Regions from separate parts of the Homo sapiens genome. Here region 1 is linked to region 2. A link means that fine-mapping ties the variant in region 2 to the expression of a gene that starts in the linked region. Tissue or cell type: whole blood. Region 2 holds a variant in brackets; the other region holds the start of a gene. All regions are shown on one strand. Distances are from middle to middle.

The links. PIP is the estimated chance that this variant, and not a neighbour inherited with it, causes the effect.
Region 1: it holds the start of DESI1, and the variant in region 2 is fine-mapped to the expression of DESI1 in whole blood (TOPMed, PIP above 0.99). The same link has a PIP of 0.9 or more in cerebellar hemisphere.

Annotation. Positions count from the first base shown.
Region 1 is chr22:41,615,959-41,624,055 of GRCh38, reverse strand. DESI1 (desumoylating isopeptidase 1) reads left to right here and starts at 3,013. Exons shown (of 6, transcript NM_015704.3): 1 at 3,013-3,304. The coding sequence starts at 3,217. XRCC6 (X-ray repair cross complementing 6) reads right to left here and starts at 2,761. Exons shown (of 13, transcript NM_001469.5): 1 at 2,711-2,761; 2 at 1,970-2,066. The coding sequence starts at 2,051. RefSeq lists a silencer at 2,993-3,262 and enhancers at 2,994-3,595, 4,868-4,927, 4,938-5,007.
Region 2 is chr22:42,092,660-42,100,761 of GRCh38, reverse strand. The region is part of intron 3 of NDUFA6-DT (NDUFA6 divergent transcript); the gene reads right to left. Among named protein-coding and RNA genes, the nearest start is that of NDUFA6-DT, 5.8 kb to the right of the region's middle. The variant G/C (reference allele first, on the strand shown) is at 4,251.

The sequences.
Region 1 (8,097 bases), 480 kb after region 2:
GGCCAAATTATGGTATATTTAAAATGAGCTATAGGCCACGCACAGTGGCTCACACCTGTAATTCCAGCACTTTGGGAGGCCGAGGTGGGTGAATCACCTAAGGCCAGGAGTTCAAGACCAGCCTGGCCAACATGGTGAAACACTGCCTCTACTAAAAATACAAAAATTAGCCGAGTGTGGTGGCGCACACGCCTGTCATCCCAGCTGCTTGGGAGGCTGAGATGGGAGAATAGCCTGAACTGGGGTGGCGGAGGTTGCAGTGAACCGAGATTGAGTCAGTGCACTCCAGCCTGGGCGACAGAGCAAGACTCTGTCTCAATAAATAAATAAATGTATATGCACTATCGTTACAATACAAGAAATCAGATAGGCCAGGCGCAGTGGCTCACACTTGTAATCCCAGCACTTTGGGATGCTGAGTAGGGCGGATCACAAGGTCAGGAGATCAAGACCATCCTGGCTAACACAGTGAAACCCCGTCTCTACTAAAAATACAAAAAACTGGCCGGGCGTGGTGGTGGGCGCCTATGGTCCCAGCTACTCGGGAGGCTGAGGCAGGAGAATGGCATGAACCCGGGAGGCGGAGCTTGCAGTGAGCCAAGATCGCGCCACTGCACTCCAGCCTGGGCGACAGAGCAAGACTGTCTCCAAAAAAAAAGAAAAAGAAATCAGATACAGTCTGGGCATGGAGGCTCATGACTATAAACCTAGAACTTTGGGAGGCCAAGGCTTGGGGGTATCGCTTGAGGCCAAGAGTTTGAGACCAGCCTGATCAACATAGCAAGATCCTGTCTCTACAAAAAATTAAGAAATTATTGGGAGTTGGCGGCACTTGTAGTCCCAGCTACTGAGGTAGCTGAAGCAGGAGGATCACTTGAGCCCGGGAGTTTGAGGTTACAGTGAGCTACGATGATCTCACCACTGCACTCCAGCCTGTCTCTATTAAAAAATTAAAAAATATATATATTTCATTAGGAAATAAATATTGAAAGATACTTGAAAGAAAAATACAAAAATGTCAAAATGCTGGTAGTGGTTGTGTTAGAGTGGTAGATTATAGCAAATTTTTTTCTTTTTTGTATTTCCTATGTTTCTCACTTTTTTTTTTTTCCTGAGAGAGTCTCATTCTGTCACCCAGGCTGGAATGCAGTGGCGCCATCTCGGCTCACTGCAAGCTCCACCTCCCAGGTTCGCACCATTCTCCTGCCTCAGCCTCCCGAGCAGCTGGGACTACAGGCGACCGCCACCACGCCCGGCTAATTTTTTGTATTTTTTTTTTAGTACAGACGGGGTTTCACCGTGTTAACCAGGATGGTCTTGATCTCCTGACATCGTGATCCGCCCGCCTCGGCCTCCCAAAGTGCTGGGATTACAGGCTTGAGACACCGCGCCTGGCCGTTTCTCATTTTTAATAAAAATATTCAAAATTTTTCTGCTCAGGAGTTAAATTAACCAGTATGAAGATTACATGTACCCCTATTTCTCTTCCTTTGTTTTATGTGTTACTGTGTTGCCTGCACATACACTCCCAAACGTGGAGGCTATAGTGAGGGAATCAATCACTTTCCTGTAACTGTGTTGCTTGCGTTTATTCTTTGGTTGGTGTAGTTATTGCAGGGTGGGGGCATTTTTACACTGAGGTCCTGGAATGGTAACACTACTTTCCTGGATGAGAAGGGTCTCACCTGAACCACTTAAGATGACAAAAAATACCTATGGTCATGGCCATTTATCAGGGACCAAAAGATGTCAAACTACCAGTGTCCAAAAAAAACTTAGGGCACACTAGAGTAAGATCTGCATATAAGAGCCTAGGGTAGCTCTGCGAAGTTCAAAGGAAGAAAAGAATTTCAGAATTATCTGGGAGGAGAAGGGCAGGCCATCAAACAGCAAAGTCCATCCAGCAGAGATAGGCAGGGAAGGTCTTTCTTCCACACACCGAATGGCACTACATGCTGAAGTCACTTACCACTTGCTTCAAGGTTCTCTTCTTGTTCTTCCTCTGCTTCTTCATCGCCCTCGGTTTTGTAATATGACTCCCACCCTGACATGTTGGCTACTGCTCACTAGGCGAAAGACGTTAACGTCAGTAACAGGCAAATTTAAATCGAAAAAATACCGACCTCTAGGTTCTTGTGAGATCTGTTCTAAAAGCTTGGTTAGTAGTGAGGAATGTGGACGGTAAATCCTGCTGCCTCGAAAGCTCGGCAGTCGGACTGCATGTAAATGCGCATGGGGGCCATCCCAGTAGCTGCCTCATCTCAGCTATCCCTCACGTTTCAGGGCCGGCGGCGGCCCGCGGAAGCCAGATCCCGGAGGTCCCGCCCCCGACGCCATTTAGACGGTGAGGGATTCCCGCTCCAGGATTCTATGCTGACTAACGGACCCCCTCGTCCTCAATACCGCCCAAAAACCTCCCCAAATTCCTCAATCACGCCCAATGAGATCTCAAACGCAGACAGGCCTCAAGCGCAGGCGGGCCGCAAGCGCAGGCGGGCCTCAAACGCAGGCGGGCCTCAAACGCGAGGTGCCGCCTCCTTCCCGAGGAAGGAGCGTGGTCTCGAGTCTGTCGCTGCTCCTCGGATTCGCACACTTAAGGCTAACGCTAACCCTCTAGCAAGGCTATGGGGGCGCGCGAGACCGACCGAGCGAAGCGGGACGAGGCCAGGCCTAGCTGGCGAACAACACAAATGGATAACGGCCCGCTTACCTTTGGCGCAGGGAAGCGACCAACTTGGACAGAAGACGACAATCCACGCATGCGCGGGCCCTGTACTCGGTCCCAATCAACGCCCTCTACGTCATCACGCATGTGCGCACTATATCGCGTCAGGCTGGCACGCACACTCCCCAACCAGCTTCTACCTATGTCCCTGACGAAAGCCAACCCATCAGCGAGAGCCCCGCCCCCTTCGGCAAAGCCCCGCCCCTTCCTACGTCAGGACTGTAAGCACATGCGCAAAAGTGCATCCCTGCCCCCGCCCCCTCTTCCGTGTGGGCCCTCCCTGTCCCCTCTCTGTCACCTCACAGTAGTCGTTGCCGGTAGCGGGTGTGGGGGCGCGAGCAGCGCAGGGCGGCCTCTCCCCCACCCCTCAGCCCGGGCCCGGGCTCGGTCCCCCCCTCTCCCTCCGCTTCGCACTCCCGTCGGGTACGGGAAGGTCCAAGCCGCTGCCGGGTGCCCGAGGGCCGTCGTGGCCGCCGTCGCCACGGGTCCCAATGGAGCCGCCGAATCTCTATCCGGTGAAGCTCTACGTGTACGACCTGTCCAAAGGCCTGGCCCGGCGGCTCAGCCCCATCATGCTGGGTGAGGGGGAAGGGGCCAGGTGGGCAGGAGGGCGGGAGCCAGGCCAGAGGGTGGCGGCTGGCCGAGGTGGGGAGACTTGGGCCACGACTCACGGGGAGACACATGGCCAGGAGGATGGAAGAAAAGCCGAGTGGAGAAGAGAGTGGTCTGAAGTTTGGGCCATCTGAGCCCCGCTTTAGCCTCGCAGATACCATCCTCACGTTTGAATTCAAGGGGAAGGGATGGAGGAGTCATGCCTCCACCTTGCAGGGGGCTTGGGCAGAAACCGAGCCCTCGAGAGCCCCTTCGACGAGGGTGTGGGGTAAACCAGCGCTGGATCCCGGCGGGTTCTCTGCCTCGCTCGGGTAGCCCAGTGCACTCCTGCCTCCTTGGCGCGGTGTAGGAAAGGTGAGGATGCCTGCCGCGCGGTGCCCCTCGTGGTGACAGAGACACTGCGGAGGTCGGGTGGCTCTCGGAGAACCTTGTCTCAGTGCCAAAAGGAAGCTCCCTTTGCAGTCCCAGGGATAGGTGGGATGGGGGAGATAGAGCTGCCTAGGGACCCAGCCATCGCCCCCAGGTAGGTCAAGTCAGGATAAGAGGAGCCCCGAACTCCAGAATTCACCAAGCAGTCTTCTCCCCACAGTTTCTAAGTTAATTGCTTTTGCTCAAATGGCAAGAAAGCAGTTTTGGGGGAAGTTTGGATGAGGCTGTGTGAATAAGGATTAGTAAAGAAAGTATTTCGGTTGTGCTCCATTAAACTACTTAACTGGCAGGAGAAAAACCAGCCCTCATTCAGTGACGATCACACCTTATTTCAACTTAAATACAGGAATGTCTTGTGTAACACAGGAATTGTCAGGTTTGTAATTTCGGGTAACAATGAGCAGGAAAGAATTCCAATTATTGAAAATTGAAGCTTTGACAGCATCCATTTGAATGGCTAGTTTTTCCTGGCTTCTGTGGAGACACTGGCGAATGATTTAGTTCATCTCTGTGAGACGAGGGGGCAGAGATCAAGTAAGGGAGGCTACTTTTGAGGGCATCCTTCAATGTCCTTGAGTTTCTAATATGTCGTAGTGAATTGAACTTAATCTCACAACCGTGGGTCCATGAGTTGTTTCTATATTTGGCTTCACATCAAAATCATCTAGGGTGCTTGTTAAAAATGCAGATACCCTCATTTCCAACATATATTGTAAATGAGATTAGAAAAAACAAGGTTAGAATAGCTCTTTAAATATGCAAATCAAAGGATATATATGTGCTTGCTTAGGCAAATAATTATCCGTAAGGATACACAAGAAATTGATAACAGCAGTAGCTTATGGAAAGGGGAACTTGATGCCAGGGGAACAGGGGTAGAAGAGAAACTTTGCTGTAAACTGTTTCTTACCTCTGGACCTGTGTATTACATACACATAATATCTATTTAAAATGAGAAAATTTTAATTATATGGATTCTAAGGCTTCACAAATACTAAATCAGAATCTCCTGGAGTTTTGGTCCAAAAATCTGTATTTTTAATGAGCTTATCAGCTAATTCTTATGTAGCCAACCCATTATTTGACAGGGATTTGGGCCTAGATAACCAGTTGTTAAAATGATTGAGGCACATCTGAAAGCAAAACTTACAAAGTCACTGAGGAAGCTGTTACTCATTAATAGATTACATCAGTCAAGTGTTTTTTTTTTGTTGGTTTTTTTTTTTGAGACGGAGTCTCGCTCTGTCACCCATGCTGGAGTGCAGTGGCACGATCTAGGCTCACTGCAAGCTCCGCCTCCCGGGTTCACGCCATTCTCCTGCCTCAGCCTCCCGAGTAGCTGGGACTACAGGCGCCCGCCACCACAGCCGGCTAATTTTTTGTATTTTTAGTATAGACGGGGTTTCACTGTGTTAGCCAGGATGGTCTCGATCTCCTCACCTTGTGATCCGCCTGCCTTGGCCTCCCAACGTGCTGGGATTACAGGCGTCAGCCACCATGCCCAGCCCACATCAGTCAAGTTTTAACTAAACTTCTTGGAATGGAGCCATTTAGTTGTTTGTTTTTTTATCATAGTGAGGAATCAGATATTTCCTATACCCCACGTAAAACCTCCCCCTTTACACTGGGTATTTTTTATCCTATTACCTAATAATTATTGGGCAGCTGAAAGGAGCCTTAGGAGTCATTATTTCATTCATTCAGCAGATGTTTATTGAGCGTCTGCTCTATGCTAGTCAACGTGTTAAGGTAAATGAGGTTGATATAATGAACAAAGATGTTCTTTGCCATCATGGAGCTATCTAATGGGGGAGACATTAAAAATAAATACATAAATAATTAGTTACAAATTGCATAAGTGCCTTCTGCACAGGAAGCACACTGGGTGCTGTGATAGAAAATAACAAGAGAGACCTTTTTTTTTTTTTTAGACGAGTCTTGCTCTGTTGCCCAGGCTGGAGTGCAGTGGGGTGATCTCAGCTCACTGCAACCTCTGCCTCCCAGGTTCAAGTGATTCTCCTGCCTCAGCCTCCAGAGTAGCTGGGATTACAGGCGCATGCCACCACACCTGGCTGATTTTTATATTTTTAGTAGAGACAGGGTTTCACCATGTTTGCCAGGCTGGTCTTGAACTCCTGACCTCAAGTGATCCGCCCGCCTCAGCCTCCCAAAGTGCTAGGATTACAGGCATGAGCCACTGCACCCAGTGAAGAGACCTATTTTAAATAAGGGTATCAAGGGTAGTGACTTTGAAAGTGGGAATTTAGGATGAGGAAGAAGTAGCCACAGGAGGGTAGTAAGGGAGTAACAGTGTTCCAGGTAGGAGAAAGATCAACCTGCCAAAGCCCTGAGACAGGAAAGAGTCTGGCCTGATACTGGAACTGAAAGAAGGCTTTTGTGGAGTGTAGTGGGTGAAGGGGAAAGTGCTGTAACTGAAGATGGAGTAATAGACCTGCCCCCTTCCCACTCCCCGCCCTTTTATATAGATGTAAAGTCCTGGAATGCCTCAGCCAAACATGGGAACATCACCCATTCATTGGGCACATCAGATTCTGATCTGAGGAAATCACCTTGTGTGCTAATCTACTTCTGTCTTCTCTACCTCTTTTTTCCATATTGCTTTTATACCTTTTGCAAAATTAATGAAGAAAGAATTAGCAAAGCTAGTAGTCATTACTTTCTAGAGTTGAACACTTAAGGAAAATAGGCATGGTCTTACTGATTCATCCCATTCAGACAACACAAATCTTGAAGTTGGGTATGTCCCAGTGCTATAAGTAGCCATATATTGATTTCCCATTCCTAAATACATTTGAACCTTTAAAAAATCAATTTGTTTCCTGATTTTTATGATGAATTCTAGAAGTATATTAATAGCCACTATTTATTGAGAGCTTACCATGTGTCAGACCCTTTTTTTCTGAGTACTTTGCGTGCATTATAATCCTCACCACAACTTTGTGAGATAAGTCCTGTTATTGCCTCCATTTTCTTGATTGAAGAACCTGAGAAGTAGAGTGTTAAGGAATTTGCCCCAGGTCCCAGAGCTACTAGGTGGTAGAGCTGGGTTATGAACACAGGCAGTCTGACTTCCAGAGCTCGCGTTCTCTGTCATTTTGAGATACCACCTCTGTGTAATACGTTCCTTTAAAATTGAAGTAAAGTAGATGCCTTCCTGAAGTTTGTAAAGGCATCCTTTGCCAAATGTTTCAAGTTTGGATGAGAAAAAAAGCTGGGTTCAATGTGTATGTGCCACTTACAATCTAGATTTATGATCATGCCTCTTAGTCTCCATTTTCCCAAATTAAATCCATGTGATCTCATCTGCAGTACCCTCTCAGGCTTCAGTTATGTCAGTTCTCCAATGGGAGACCTCATCTAGCTCTGTCGCAGTTCAGGATTAGACTAGATAAAGCCCAAGGTAATTCCCCTTTCCTGAAGCAATGTAAATTCCGTAGTTTTAGCCTGTCCTGTTTTCAGCCTCCTGGAATTGCCTCAAGTGAAGGCATTACTGTTCTATAGCTTTTCATTCACTATGAAAAATGGTCCCAAAATTATCTTCAGCATTCTAATTGAGCAGATAGCCTCATTGCACCTTTTTTCATAGTCACCAATTGCCTAAAATAATTAGCTATTATAAGTGTCCTTCAGTTCCTCCTCTTAATAATTTTGGCTGCTCTTTAAGTTTCTTGACCTCTTTTTGTGCCACAGTACATGCAGAAGTGTGTGTGTGTGTGTGTGTGTGTGTGTGTGTGTGTGTGTGTTTTAATTGTGGTAAGAAGTACTTCATATTTGTTTATTATTTTCTGATCAGAAGTTTCGTGTACATGCATCACGTTTATTTTTCTTTACAAGCCCATTTCAAAACTGTTTTCAGACTTAAAGATTTGGAGACATAGAATATATAAATTGCTTGGCAGAATGAATTCTAATGAATATTAGAGATTTTACACTATACTCAATTCTTTACTTCATTTTGTAGTACAAATAGTAATGAAATAAAAGATATGACGTGAACTCTGTCCTCCAGGAATTTTTCTTTTTTTGAGGCAGAGTTTCACTCTTGTTGCCCAGGCTGGAGTGTAATGACACGATCTCGGCTCACTGCAACCTCCGCCTCCTGGGTTCAGGCAGTTCTCCTGCCTCAGCCTCCCAAGGAGCTGGGATTACAGACATGTGCCACCATGTCCAGCTAATTTTTCTATTTTTAATAGAGACTGGGTTCCACCATGTTGGTCAGGCTGGTCTCAAACTCCTGATCTCAGGCGATCCACCCACCTTAGCTTCCCAAAATGCTGAACAAACCCCCCTCCCAAAGTAAGGCATGAGTC
Region 2 (8,102 bases):
GTTCTGTCACCTAGGCTGGAGTGCAATGGCATGATCTCAGCTCACTGCAACCTCTGCCTCTCAGGTTCAAGCGATTCTCCTGCCTCAGCCTCCCAAGTAGCTGGAATTATAGGTGTGCACCATCACGCCAAGCTAAATTTTGTATTTTTAGTAGAGATGGGGTTTCACCATGTTGGCCAGGCTGGTCTCGAACTCCTGACCTCAGGTGATCCGCCTGCCTCGGCCTCCCAAAGTGCTGGGATTACATGCATGAGCCACCGCACCCGGTCTACCCTCATCACTTCTGTATGATATTGTGCTAGAAGCTCTAGCCAGTGAACAAGTCAAAAAAGAGAAGTAAAAGGCAATCAGATTGGAAAGAAAGAAATAAAACTGTATTTTCAAATAACATGATTGTGTGTAAAATCCTGTGGGATCATCCAAAAAGCAACTACAGCTTAACAAGGCTGAAGGATGCAAGATCACTGTATTAAAATCAATTATATTGCTATATAATAGGAATAAACAATTGGGAATTAAAACTTCTTAAAAACCAGTTATAACAGCATCCAAAATATAAAATACATAGACAAAAAATATAACAAAAGCTACATGCAAAATCATACACTAATAACTACAAAACATTGCTGAGAGAAATTAAAGACGATGTAAATCAATGAAGAGCCATACCATGGTCATGAATCAGAAGACTCAACATTTTAAAGATGTCAGTTCCTCTCAAATTAATCTATAGATTCAGTGTAATCAATAAAAATTCCAGCAATTTTCTTGTTGAAATTGATTGCTTTTTCTAAAATTCATAGAGGAATGCAACTCAGGCCGGGCAAAGTGGCTCATGCCTGTAATCCCAGCACTTTGAGAGGCCAAGTCAGGTTGGTTGCTTGAGTCCAGGAGTTCGAGACAAGCCTGGGCAACGTGGTTAAACCCTGTCTCTACAAAAAGTACAAAAATTAGCTGGGTGTGGTGGTGCATGCCTGTAATTCCAGCTACCCGGGAGCCTGAGGCAGGAGAATCTTTTGAACCTGGGAGGCAGAGGTTGCAGTGCACCGAGATCGTGCCACTGCACTTCAGCCTGGGCGACAGAGTGAGACTCCATCTCAAAAAAAAAAAATACAGTTATGAACATGTTGAAAAAATAAAAAAGAGTCTCAGCATAGAAATAGGAGATATAAGGAAGAATCAGATAGAAATTTTAGAAATAGAAAATACAACAACGAAATAAAAAGCTCAGTGAATGGGCTCAAAAGTGGAAAAGAGGACAACACAAGCAGTTAACTGGAAGACAGGACAACAGAAATTACTCAATCTGAACAACAGAGAGAAAATGGACTGGAAAAAGTAAACAAGAAAGAAAAGAGAAAATAAAAGAGGCCGGTACAGTGGCTCATGCCTGTAACCCCAGCACTTTGGGAGGCTGAGGTGGGTGGATCATGAGGTCAGGAGATCGAGACCATCCCTGGCTAACACGGTGAAACCCCGTCTCTGCTAAAAATACAAAAACGAAATTAGCCGAGCATGGTGGTGGGCACCTGTAGTCCCAGCTACTCGGGAGGCTGAGGCGGGAGAATGGTGTGAACCCGGGAGGCAGAGCCAAGATCGCGCCACTGTACTCCAGCCTGGGCGACAGAGCGAGACTCCATCTCAACCAAAAAAAAAAAAAAAAAAAAAAAAAAAAAGAAGAAAAGAAAAGAAACAAATAATAAACACAACCTCAGGGCCTGTGAGACTGTTAATAAAAGATCAGAGTGGGGCATGATAGCTCATCCCTGTAATCCCAGCATTTTGGTAGACAGAGGCAGAAGGATTGCTTGAGCCCAGGAGTTTGGGGCCAGCCTGGACAACATAGGAGGGGGCCGGGCGTGGTGGCTCTCGCCTGTAATCCCAGCACTTTGGGAGGCCAAGGCAGGCGGATCATGAGGTCAAGAGATTGAGACCATCCTGGCCAACTTGGTAAAACCCCGTCTCTACCAAAAATTCAAAAATTAGCCAGGCATGGTGGCAGGCACCTGTAATCCCAGCTACTCAGGAGGTTGAGGCACGAGAATCACTGGAATCTGGGAGGCAGACATTGCAGTGAGCCAAGATCATGCCACTGCACTCCAGCCTGGTGAAAGAGCGAGACTCCGCCTCAAAAACAAAAAAATTGAGTGTGGTGGTGCACACCTGTGGTCCCAGCTACTCTGGGGACTGAAGTGGGAGGAACGCTTCGGCCTGGAAGGTCTAGGTTGCAGTGAGCCATGATTCTGCCACTGTACTCCAGCCTGGATAACAGAGCAAGACCCTGTCTCAAAAAAATACATTAATAAATAAATAATCAAATGAACAAATATTCAAAGAAAACTTTCCTACTTGGCAAAATGCATAAAACAATAGATTCAAGAAGCTGAGAGAATTCCAATTGGGATAAACCCAAAGAAGTTCACACCAAGATACATTATAGTCAAACTTCTGAAAACAAAACAAAAAAATTTTTTGAAAGCAGCCAGAGAAAAACAATATGTTACTTATATAGAAAAAATAATTTGAATGACAGCTTATTTCTCATCAGAGACAACAGAAACCAGAAAGAAGTGACACAACACTTTTCCATTGTTAAAAAAACTATCAACTCAGAATCCCATATCCAATGAAAATATCCTTCAAGAATGCTGGGGGAAATTGTAAAATTCTCAAAGGAAGGAAAACTAAAAGAATTTGTCACCAACTAATATGTGCCCAGTTGGTTTTTTACAAAGGTGCTGATGCAATTCAATGGAGGAAAAATGGCTTTTCAACAAATGGTTCTGGAGTAATCAGATATTCATAGGCAAGAAAATGAACCTTGAAATAAATCTTACATTATATACAAAAATTACAACAAGGTGCAGTGGCTCATGCCTATAATTCCAGCATGGCAGGTAGATCACTTGAAGTCAGGAGTTCAAGACCAGCCTGGCCAACGTGGTGAAACCCTGTCTCTACTAAAAATACAAAAATTAGCTGGGCGTGATGGTGCGCATCTATAATTCCAGCTACTTTGGAGGATGAGACACCAGAATCGCTTGAACCTGGGAGGCAGAGGTTGCAGTAAGCCAAGATCATGCCACTGCACTCCAGCCTGGGTGAGGGAATAAGACTGTCTCAAAGAAAAACAAAAACCAAAAAACAAAAACCAAACCAAACCATGGACTTAAATGTACATCATCAAACATTTAGGAGAAAATCTTCTGGACCTAGAGCTACACAAGGCATTTTTAGTCTTGACACTAAAAGCACAATCCATAACAGGAAAAATAATAAAATAGATTTCATCAAAATTAAGCACTTTTACTCTGTGAAAGACCCTGTTCAGAGGATGAAAAGGCATAGAGTGGGAGAAAATATTTGCAAACTACGTATCTGATAAAGGACTAGTATCTAGAATATATAAAGAACTCCCAAAACTCAAAAATAAATAATCTAAATAAAAATGTGCAAAAGACATGAAAAAGCACTTCAGTAAAGAGAATATACACATTGGAAATAAACTTGGGAAAGGATGTTCAATATCACTAGCCATTAAGGAAATGCAAACTAAAACTACAATGGGCTATCCCTGTACACTTATTCCAAATGGCTAAATGTAAACAGTTGCTACACCAAATGTAGAAGAGGATGTGGAGAAACTAGATCACTCATGAATTGCCAATGAGAATGTAAAATGATTCAGTTATTCTGGAAAACAATTTGGTAGTTTTTTTTTTTTTTCCCTGAGACGGAGTCTTGCTCTGTCACCCAGGCTGGAGTGCAGTGGTGTGATCTCGGCTCACTGCAACCTCTGCCTCCTGGGCATGGTGGCGTACGCCTATAATCCCAGCTACTTGGAAGGCTGAGGCAGGAGAATCGCTTGAACCCGGGAGGCGGAGGTTACAGTGAGCTGAGATCGTGCCATCGCACTCCAGCCTGGGTGACAGAGTGAGACTCCATATCAAAAAAAATAAAAATAAAAAAAGAGAGAGAGGAAAAAGAGGTTTAATTGATTCAGTTCTGCAGGCTGTGCAAGCATGGCTCCAGCATCTGCTCCTGGTGAGGGCCTCAGGAAGCTTCAAATCCCAGCAGAAGGAAAAGGGAGAGCAGGGATGTCACATGGTGACAGCAGGAACAAGAGAGCAAAGCGGGAGATGCCACACACCTTTAACAACCAGATTACAGATGAACTCACTCATCACCAAGGGGATGGTGCTAAGCCGTTCATGAGGGATCTGCCTCCATGATCCATTCACCTTCCACCA[G/C]GCTTCAACTCCAACACTGGGGATGACATTTTGACGAGATTTGGAAGGGACAAATATCCAAACCGTATCACCATATTTTGTGTTTTGTTTAGGTTTGTTTTTTTGTCACCCAGGCTGGAGTACAGTGGTAGGATCATAGTTTATGGTAGCCTCGAACTCCTGGCTTCAAGCAATCCTCCTACCTCAGCCCCTCGAGTAGCTGGGACTATAGACACGTACCACCATGCTTGGCTATTTTAAACAAATTTTTGTAGAGATGCTATCGGGCAAAATTCACCCCTGATATTTCACGTAGGTTCTTTTCTATTTTCCCTAAGTGTCGGCCGGTCTGAGAAATAAAGGGACAGAGTACAAAAGAGATAAATTTTAAAGCTGGGTGTCCGGGGGAGACGTCACATGTCAGCAGGTTCCGTGATGCCCCCTGAGCCATAAAACCAGCAAGTTTTTATTATCGATTTCAAAAGGGAAGAGAGTGTACGAATAGGGTGTGGGTCACAGAGATCACATGCTTCACAAGGTAATAAGATATCACAAGGTAAATGAAGGCAGGGCGAGTTCACAGGACCACAGGACCGGGGCGAAATTAAAATTGCTAATGAAGTTTTGGGCATGCATTGTCACTGATAACATCTTATCAGGAGACAGGGTTTGAGAGCAGACAACCGGTCTGACCAAAATTTATTAGGTGGGAATTTCCTCATCCTAATAAGCCTGGGAGCGCTACAGGAGACTGGGGCTTATTTCATCCCTACAGCTGTGACTGTAAAATACAGCCACCCCCCAAGTGGCCATTTCAGAGGCCTACCCTCAGGGACGCATTCTCTTTCTCAGGGGCGTTCCTTGCTGAGAAAAAGAATTCAGCGATATTTCTCCCATTTGCTTTTGAAAGAAGAGAAATATGGCTCTGTTCCGCCCGGCTCACTGGCAGTCAAGAGTTTAAGGTTATCTCTCTTGTTCCCTGAACGTTGCTGTTATCCTGTTCTTTTTTCAAGGTGCCCAGATTTCATATTATTCAAACACACATGCTCTACAAACAATTTGTGCAGTTAATGCAATCATCACAGGGTCCTGAGGCGACATACATCCTCCTCAGCTTACGAAGATGACGGGATTAAGAGATTAAAGACAGGAATAGGAAATCACAAGGCTATTGATTGGGGAAGTGATAAGTGTCCATGAAATCTTCACAATTTATGTTCAGAGACTGCAGTAAAGACAGGTGTAAGAAATTATAAAAGTATTAATTTGGGGAACTAACAAATGTCCGTGAAATCTTCACAATTTATGTTCTTCTGCCACGGCTTCAGCCGGTCCCTCCGTTCGGGGTTCCTGACTTCCCTCAACAGATGCAGTCTCACTATGTTGCCCAAGCTGTTCTCAAACTCCTGGCCTCAAGCAATCCTGACATTATAGGAATGAGCCACCATGCCTGGGTGACAGACCACCTTCTGTTTATCCACTTATCAACAGATAGCCATTTGGGTGTTTTTAGTTTTTGGCTATGGTGAATAATGCTGCTATGAACATTTGCATACAAGTCTTTGTGTGGAAAAAAATTTCTTCAGGGTAAATACCTAGGATTGGAATTGCTGGATCATATAGTAAGTCCACGTTTAACTTTTTTTTTTTTTTTTAAATACGGTCTCATTATTTTGCCTAGTCTGGTCTCAAACTCCTAAGCTCAAGCAATGCTTCTGCCTCGGCCTCTTACAAGTGAGTACCACCACTCCTGGCCATATTTAACTGTTTAAGAAACTGCCAGACTGTTTTCCCAAATGGCTACACCATTTTACATTCCCACCAGCAAAGTATAGAAAGTTCTAATTTCTCTATATCCTTGCCAACACTATCTTTTGTCTTTTTTTTTTTTTTTTTGAGATGGAGTCTTGCTCTGTCACCCAAGCTGGAGTGAAATGGCATGATCTGGGCTCACTGCAACCTCCACCTCCCGGGTCAAGCAATTCTCCTGCCTCAGCCTCCCTAGTAGCTGGGATTACAGGCATGCACTACCATGCCCAGCTAATTTTCCTATTTTTAGTAGAGAGGAGGTTTTACCACGTTGGCCAGGCTGGTCTCAAACTCCTGAACCCAAGTGATCTACTGGCCTTGGCCTCTCAAAATGCTGGGATTACAGGTGTGAGCCACCGTGACTGGCTGTGTCTGCCTTTTTCACTCTAGCCATTCTACTGGGTGAGAAATGGTATCTCACGAGGGTTTTGATTTTTATTTCCCTAATGGCTCATGATGTTGAATGTCTTTTCATGTACTTATTGGTCACCCGTATATCCTCTTTGGAGAAATGGTTATTCAAATACTTTACCCATTAAAATAAAAATTTCATCTTTAAGAGCAGTTTCGAGTTCACAGCAAAACTGAACAGAAAATACAGGGTTCCCCCACCCCACACACACTCATAGCCTCCCCCCACCAACAACATCAGGCACCAGAGGATATATTTGTTATAAGCAATGAAGCTACATTGACACACCAGTATCACCCATATCCCATAGTTTACATTAGGTTTCATTCTTGGTGTTGTACATCCTGTAGGGTTTGACAAATGTGTAATAACATGTATCCACCATTATAACATCCAGAGTAATTTCACTACCCTAAATATTCTCTGTGCACCACCTCTGTGCATTTCTCCCCACTCCCAGCCCCTGCCATCTTTTTTATTGTCTCCATAGTTTTGCCTTTTCCAGGATGTAATATAGTTGGAATCATACAGTATGTAGCTCTTTCAGATTGTCTTCTTTCACTTACTAATATGCATTTAAGGTTTCTCCATGCCTTTTCATGGCTTAATAGCTCATTTCTTTCTAGTGCTGAATATAGTCCATTGTCTGGATATACCAAGGTTTATTTATCCATTTACCTGCTAAAGGACATCTTGGTTGCTTTCAAGTTTTGGCAATTACAAATAAAGCTGCTGCTGGCCGGGAGCGGTGGCTCACGCCTGTAGTCCCAGAACTTTGGGAGGCCAAGGCGGGCAGATCACGAGGTCAGGAGATCGAGACCATCCTGGCTAACATGGTGAAACCCCGTCTCTACTTAAAATACAAAAAATTAGCTGGGCTTCGTGGCAGGCGCCTGTAGTCCCAGCTACTTGGAGGCTGAGGCAGGAGAATGGCGTGAACCCAGGAGGCAGAGCTTCCAGTGAGCCGAGATCGCGCCACTGCACTCCACCCTGGGTGACAGAGCGAGACTCCATCTCAAAAACAAAAACAAAAACAAAAGCTGCTGTAAACATCCATGTGCAGGTTTCTGTGTGGACATAAGTTTTCAGCTCATTTGGGTAAACACTAAGGAATGCAATGGCTGGATCTTCTGATGGGAGTATGTTTAGTTTTGTCAGAAAGCCAAACTGTCTTCCAAAGCTGCTGTACCATTTTGCGTTCCTACCAGTAAGGAGAGTTCCTGTTGCTTCACATCCTCACCAGCATTTGGTGTTGTCTCCCTTGCCCATTTCTAAACTTGGCTATTTGTCTTTTCATTACTGAGTTGTAAGAATTTTATGTATCCTAGATACAAGTCCCTTATGGAACATGTGATTTGCAAAAATTTTCTCCCAGTTTGTGGGTTGTTTAGAGGTCTTTTTTTTCTTTTCCTTTTGAGACAGGGTCTCACTCTGTCGCCCAGACTGGAGTCCAGCGGCGCAATCTTGGCTCACCGCAACCTCCACCTCGCGGGCTCAAGCGATCCTCCTGCCTCAGCCTCCCGAGTAGCTGAGATTACAGGTGCCCACCACCATGCCGGCTAATTTTTGTATTTTTAGTAGAGACGGGGGTTTCACCATGTTGGCCAGGCTGGTCTCGAACTCCTGACATCAGGTGATACACCTGCCTTGGC